Linked DNA regions of Homo sapiens. The protein of the gene in region 1 interacts with the protein of each later gene in a pairwise test. Each region holds a gene or a part of one and is shown on either strand. Other genes may lie near its edges.

What was found.
Region 2: the proteins of BCL7A (region 1) and ALAS1 interact in binary tests that used the Homo sapiens proteins (3 or more experiments, as listed by UniProt).

What each region holds. Positions count from the first base shown.
Region 1 is NC_000012.12:122,024,876-122,028,687, forward strand, and holds part of BCL7A (B-cell CLL/lymphoma 7 protein family member A), read left to right. Parts: intron 1-3,812.
Region 2 is NC_000003.12:52,211,444-52,215,089, forward strand, and holds the end of ALAS1 (5-aminolevulinate synthase, non-specific, mitochondrial isoform 1 precursor), read left to right. Parts: coding exon 1-108; intron 109-814; coding exon 815-977; intron 978-2,565; coding exon of another isoform or gene 2,566-2,576; coding exon 2,577-2,737; 3' UTR 2,738-2,884; downstream 2,885-3,646.

The DNA.
Region 1 (3,812 bases):
TTGGCCCCATGAGCCTTGGGTGGGTTTCTCCTCAGCCCTAGTGACCCCTAAAATTACCCCCCCGACCCACCCACTGTCCCCTGATGCTTCCCCCACCCCCGGAAAAAGCTGTGGCCTCCCTCTCATTTGGGGCAGGCTGCCTCCTGTTCTCTTTTTCTGGTGTTTCAGCAAGGCAGGCCAGTGGAGGTGAGGTGACCAGAAGATGGCTAAAGGGAAAACAAAATGGTGGGCCTCTTTTTGGGAAACTGGGCCAGGGTTTGGGGGCCCTGTGCTGGTGGAGGAGAGAAGACCCCAGGGCGATGGTAGGAGACGAAAGCTTGGGCTGCAGCGTAAGCTTGGAGGCCCGCTGCGGTGGCTCACGCCTGTAATCCCAGAGCTTTGGGAGGCTGAGACAGGAGGATTGCTTGAGCCCAGGAGTTTGAGACCAGCCTGGGTCTCAAACCAAAAAAAAAGAAAAAGAAAAAAAAGAGCCGGGCGCGGTGGCTCACGCCTGTAATTTCAGCACTCTGGGAGGCCGGGCAGGCGGATCACGAGGTCAGGAGATCAAGACCATCCTGGCAAACATGGTGAAACCCCGTCTCTACTAAAAAAATACAAAAAAATTAGCCAGGCGTGGTGGCGGGCGCCTGTAGTCCCAGCTACTTGGGAGGCTGAGGCAGGAGAATGGCGGGAACCCAGGAGGTGGAGCTTGCAGTGAGCGGAGATTGCGCCACCGCACTCCAGCCTGGGCAACAGAGCGAGACTCCATCTCAAAAAAAAAAAAGAAGAAGAAGAAAAAAGAAAAATTAGTCTGGACGCAGTGGCTCATGCCTGTAATCCCAGCACTTTGGGAGGCCGAGGCAGGCAGGTCACCTGAAGTCAGGAGTTGGAAACCAGCCTGGCCAACATGGTGAAACCCTGTCTCTACTAAAAATACAAAAAATTAGCTGGATGTGGTGGTACACGCCTGTAATCCCAGCTACTCTTAAGGCTGAGGCAGGAAAATTGCTTGAACCTGGGAGGCGCAGGTTGCAGTAAGCCGAGATCGCGCCACTGCACTCCAGCCTGAGCAACAGAGCAAGACTCCATCTCAAAAAAAAAAAAAAAAAAAAAAGAAGAAAGAAAAGAGAAAAGGCCGGGCACGTTGGCTCACACCTGTAATCCCAGCACTTTAGGAGGCCGAGGAGGGAGGATCACGAGGTCAGGAGATCGAGACCATCCTGGCTAACAGTGAAACCCCATCTCTACTAAAAATACAAAAAATTAGCCGGGAGTGGTGGCAGGCGCCTATAGTCCCACCTACTTGGGAGGATGAGGCAGGAGAATGGCATGAACCCACGAGGCAGAGCTTGCAGTGAGCCAAGATTGCACCACTGTACTCCAGCCTGGGCGACAGAGCGAGACTCCGTCTCAAAAAAAAAAAAAAAAAAAGAAAAAAATTAGACAGGCATGGTGACCCTCGTCTGTAATCCCAGCTACTCAGGAGGCTAAGCCTGGAGGATCACTTGAGCCCAGGAGGTTGAGGCTGCAGTGAGCTACGATTGTGCCACTGTACTCTAGCCTGGGTGACAGGGTGAGACCTTGTCTCAAAAAACAAACAAAAAAAGTAGGCTTAGGCCCAGGACCCCTTAGCACCTGGTCTGAGGGTTCCCTCAATGACTTGCTGTGAGGACTGAGAAAGGTCTGTGCCTGAAGAGCTCCCGTCTGTCCCAGGAGAGGTAGAGGTTTGGGCCTGAGGCCTCCCTCACCTCAGCTCCTCCAGAGGTTTCATCATGGAGACATTCCTACTGGGCACATGGCAGGTCAGGCAGACCTGGGCCTAGCTAGGGTGAGGCCAGCCATGGGCCAGGCCTCTTGAGGTGACAGGGACTAGCCATGAGGAGTGAGTACAAGGACAGGGAGTAGAGCTTTCCTGGAGGGAGTCAGCAGGGTCCCCTTGAGTGGTGGGTAACCCTAAGATGGTCTTGTTGGCTAACCCTTGGACCTGGACACAGGAGAACATTCGAAATTGGCCTTAGCCTGGAGAATCTGGGATGGATTCTTGTAGTTTATATAGGAGTCCGTGCTGGGGAGGAGCAGTTGGGGCTATATTCCTACTGCTGGGACCTCATTTTTTCCTTTCCTCCCAGAAGCTCAAGTGTAATGGGAAGGGAAAGGTGTTGAAGTCAGGGTAAGGTGACGGGGCCGCCAAGACAGGAGGCGCGGGGCACACCCAGGGCCAGCTTTGCAGCAAGTTGGGCTGCAGCCTGGTGGTTGTGGGGATTTCTGCACCTGGTGCTTACAGGTGTCAAGAGTGAGGGCATCTGAGGGGGGCCAGAGAGCCCATCTGGGGCAAGCTGTCGCTCCCTGGGGCATGTGGGCCCAGGTCATGTTTTCAAGAGTAGCCAGAAGTCTGGATTCTTATGCAAAGCCTGTTTTGTTGTTTGTTTGTTTGTTTGTTTGAAGTTTGGCAGCAGATTTAACATTTTTAAAGTACTGTGCAGGCCAAACAAAACACGCCTGTTGACTGGTTGTTTGCCATCCTAAATATAAAGTGGGGCCCATGTGTGGTGGCTCACACCTGTAATCCCAGCATTTTGGGAGGCCAAGGCAGGAAGATCACTTGAGCCCAGGAGGTCGAGGCTGCAGTGAGCAGTGATCGCACCACCGCACTCCAGCCTGGGCAACAGAGGGAGACCTTATCTCAAAAAAATAACAAATAGGCTGGGCACAGTGGCTTATACCTGTAATTCCAGCACTTTGGGAGGCCAAGGCGGGTGGGTCACCTGAGGTCAAGAGTTTGATGTCAGCCTGGCCAACATGGTGAAACCCGTCTCTACTAAAAATACAAAAATTAGCCGGGCGTGGTGGCATGTGCTTGTAGTCCCAGCTACTCAGGAGGCTGAGGCAGGAGAATCGCTTGAACCCGGGAGGCGGAGGTTGCAGTGAGCCGAGATTGTGCCACTGCACTCCAGCCTGGGCCACAGAGCAGGAGTCCGTCTCAAAAAAATAAAAAAAATAAAAAAATAAGAAAGTGATGAGTATAGCTTAATACCCTCATTGGGGAAGAGGAGCAACGCCCTTTTTTGGGGAGGGGTATGTGTTCTGTGGTGATGGTTTTGGGGGGCAATTGTGGGAAACCTCAGCTGCTCCGCTGAACCCGTGTGCCCACCCAGTGTGTCTGTGGCTGTGAAATCCCATGTCCTCCTGGGTGCTCACTTGGTGCCTTAAACTTGAGCTCCATGGCCCCTCCGGGTGGCTGCTTAGCTGAGCATAGGTCCAGCTCAGAGGTAGAATTCTTAATGTTCTTGCCTCTGTCCCAGAGTCCCCTCAATGTCCACACCTAGAAATACAGTTTCTCATCACTGGGGTAACTTGAGAACTCGGTGAAGAGGTTGCCAGTTGGGGCAAAGAGAGGCACGAAAGCCTGGCTGCATTCAGCTTGTAGCCTGCGGTGGCCTCGAGCCTCGCTGGGAAGCAGCTGCAAACTTGCATCTTGGCTGATTTGCGGCCGCAAAGCCCAGATCTCTGGCACACTTTCTGCCCTGAAAGGTGTCCTGTGTGTTACAAGTCAATTACTTTTTTTTTTTTTTCCCAAACACAATCAAACCTTGAATGGGTTGATTTACTGGGAAGCTGGTCCAGGGCTCATGAGTAATGAATGGCTTTGGCCAATCTGCATGGAGTCCTGGCAATTTGTCATTCTTCCTCCAGCTTCTGTTACCCTGGCGCTCCTTTAGAATGATTCTTGGTTTTCATGGCCAACAGAATAGCAGGAGGTGGTGTCTGGGGTCCGAGCCCAAATCTAATTCTCTTCTGCCACTTCCTGTCTGTGAGACCCCAAGCTAGTGGTA
Region 2 (3,646 bases), on another chromosome or scaffold:
CGGGTGCTTCGCCGCCAGCACCAGCGCAACGTCAAACTCATGAGACAGATGCTAATGGATGCCGGCCTCCCTGTTGTCCACTGCCCCAGCCACATCATCCCTGTGCGGGTAATGGCCTGTCTCTGATTGGACTTGCCGTGGGGTGTGCCTCTACACATGATGTACGGATGTTCTGCTTCATACCTTCCTGAAGTTGGGCTTGAGCGGGGTGACTGCCAGGGCAGGGGTTGTAGCCAGCCACCCTCTGTCATGTTTCCGCCATTGGCTGACTTCACCAAGAGAAGAAAGCCTTTGAACCCAGCAGGCTGGGGCAGAAGTTCCCTCTCCGGAGCACTGACCTTAACAGGGTAAACACAGAGCTTGTATCTAGAAAGCTCCAGAAGCCTGAGCTTGGCCAGCTTTGAAGTATGGCTTTCTACTTAGTAAATTTCAAAATAGGTTTTGCCCTTCCCACTACAAATGGTAGCACTGTTGATGTCACAGTTGAATTAGTGTAATGAATACAGCTAGTATAACTGAATCTAGATTATACATCGTGGGTATGAGAGTCTGCTGGTACGAACAGAACCAGTGTTTTCTGATTAAAAATGTATTTCTTTTTAATAAGGTTTTGGTTCCCTGGTGTTCACGAAACAACACTGGCTTCTTTTAAATGACAGGTGTTTGGGCAGCGCTTTCCCTCTGCCCCAAGCTTGCATGTGTTGCTACAGTCTGGTCTTGAGCCTGAGCGTTGTGGGGACTGCGTTCGTTAGGATCTCTGCTAAGAGGTAGTCCTTCCTGTTGTGACCTTACCTTCTGCTCTCATTGAACTTAGGTTGCAGATGCTGCTAAAAACACAGAAGTCTGTGATGAACTAATGAGCAGACATAACATCTACGTGCAAGCAATCAATTACCCTACGGTGCCCCGGGGAGAAGAGCTCCTACGGATTGCCCCCACCCCTCACCACACACCCCAGATGATGAACTACTTCCTTGGTGAGTACCTGGGGAGCTGCTGGTGCCTCACTGAGGAGTTGCATAAAGCTGTCTTTGCAGTGTTTATAATTGAAGCCCTTCAGAGGCATTCAGATTTGTTTCTTCTTCTTTTTTTAGTTTTTTTTTTGAGACAAGAGTTTCGCTCTTGTTGCCCAGGCTGGAGTACAATGGCACAATCTCGGCTCACCGCAACCCCTGCCTCCCAGGTTCAAGCGATTCTCCTGCCTCAGCTTCCTGAGTAGCTGGGATTACAGCCATGCGCCACCACGCCTGGCTGATTTTGTATTTTTAGTAGAGATGGGGTTTCTCCATGTTGGTCAGGCTGGTCTCGAACTCCCGACCTCAGGTGATCCACCCACCTCAGCCTTCCAAAGTGCTGGGATTACAGGTGTGAGCCCTGGTGCCCGGCCTGTTTCTTCTTTTTCCAAGTAACTAAGCATGCCCTCAAATGGTTCAAAACCCTAAAAGGTATTTATTGTCTGATTCACATCAAGAGGGTGGAGAGTCATTTTGGGAGCTCTGAGGGAGCCTGGGAATCCGCTCAGTGTTTCCAGTGCCCCCTTGTCTACGTGGCTGAAGGATGCACAGTAATGACTTGCAGGGAGAAGAGGCCTCTGAAGGCTTGAGTCCCCGCTGTCCCTCCGGAGTCCACCTCACATTTGTCTTCACCACTGCCCTCTACTCCATGATGTTGTATAATCCTTGAATAACCCCACACCTAATCGCCTCTGATAAGAGGAATTGCTCAATATTTTCAACTGCCCCGTGGTTCTATACTGCTCCACCCATGTCCAACCTAAAGGCAGAGATGGAAGGGGGCTATTAGCCACAGGTCACCTCTGCCTCGAAGGTACATTGCCTTCCCAAGCCCGCCCAGCGTGGCTCAGCTTCCTCACAGGCTCTCTGTTCTGTTGGAAATGCTGGGTTTAAACTGTCACGTGGCAGTGTTGGAGCAGCTTCTTCCCTACAGGCCTGTGAAATCAAGCCCAACTCTGGGTTTTATTTTTCTCTTTATTTATTTTTATAAAAGCCTTAAAATTTTTATAAAAGCCTTATCTCAGTAGAGATATAGCTCACTTACCATAAAATTCACCCTTTTAAAGTATCCAAGTCTATGATTTTTAAGTACACTCCCAGTGTTATGCAACCATCACTTCTATCTGATTCTAGAACATTTTCATCACCTCAGAAGCCCCTACCCATTAGGAGTCACTCCTCTTTTCCCCATCCCCAGCCCCTGTCAACCACGGCTCTTTCTGTCTCTATGGATTTGCCTTTTCTGGACCTTGTGTCTAAGTGGAATCATACCGCCTGTGCTCCTTTGTGTCTGCCTTCTTCCAGCATCATGTCTGCAAGGCTCATCCATGCTGTAGCATTCATCAGCACTTCATTTCTTTCTGTTACCAAATAACCTTCCATTGTACAGATTTACCACATTTTGTTTATCCGTCTATTGGTGGACATTTGGTTGTTTCTCTTGTTAACTATTATGAATAATGCTGCTATGAACATTTGTGTACAAGTTTTTGTGTGGACATATGTTTTCATTTCTCTTGTGTATATTACTCCCTTTAATATTTAAAAACTGTTTCTCCTCAGAGAATCTGCTAGTCACATGGAAGCAAGTGGGGCTGGAACTGAAGCCTCATTCCTCAGCTGAGTGCAACTTCTGCAGGAGGCCACTGCATTTTGAAGTGATGAGTGAAAGAGAGAAGTCCTATTTCTCAGGCTTGAGCAAGTTGGTATCTGCTCAGGCCTGAGCATGACCTCAATTATTTCACTTAACCCCAGGCCATTATCATATCCAGATGGTCTTCAGAGTTGTCTTTATATGTGAATTAAGTTATATTAAATTTTAATCTATAGTAAAAACATAGTCCTGGAAATAAATTCTTGCTTAAATGGTGGTTCTTTCTGCTATTGGCTACTGGATAACATTCTTCATTGGCTAGACACAGTGGCTAACACCTGTAATCACAACACTTGGGAGGCCAAAGCAAGAGGATCACTTTAGGCCAGGAGTTTGAAGCTGCAGTGAGCCATGATTGCTCCACTGCACTCCGGCCTGGGTGACAGAGCAAGACTGCCTCTGAAATAAAAAATAATAATTGTCATCATCCCTTTAAGTTCAGTCTGTATTCTAGGAATGAATAAACTGAATGAAGTACTGGAGCTCTGGTAATGGCTTCAGAGGAGGAGCAGCAGAACCTCCCACTGCTTGAGCCCTGCTACCTCCTTAATGCCTACTGTATCCAGTGGCTGACCCAGCCGCACCCGGCAACTGAACAGTTTTGAAAGAGTGACACCACCTTGGCGGCCGGTTTCACTTTAAACTTCTCACTTCACATCTTCAATGGACAGTCAGTGCTGCCCAGCAGTCCTGCTACAGCTGCCTCCCCCTGACTTTCCCTTTCAGCTACTGCCTTGACCCCATTCTTCCCTGTGAAAGTCTGGGCGTCAGAAGACTGGCTTGTCTGTCACCACCCTGTCCTCCAGCCTGTCAGCTTCCTGCACCTGTAGTTGTGTCCCATCCAGCAAAGGCAGAGGGGTTTGTGCTCCTCATCCTGCCTCTCTCCGTTTGTATTTCAGGTCCTGTTGTTTCTTGCATGGTCCTGCAGCCATCTCTTTGCTGCAGAATTTCTCCCCCTCTGCTGGTTCATTCTCCTTGG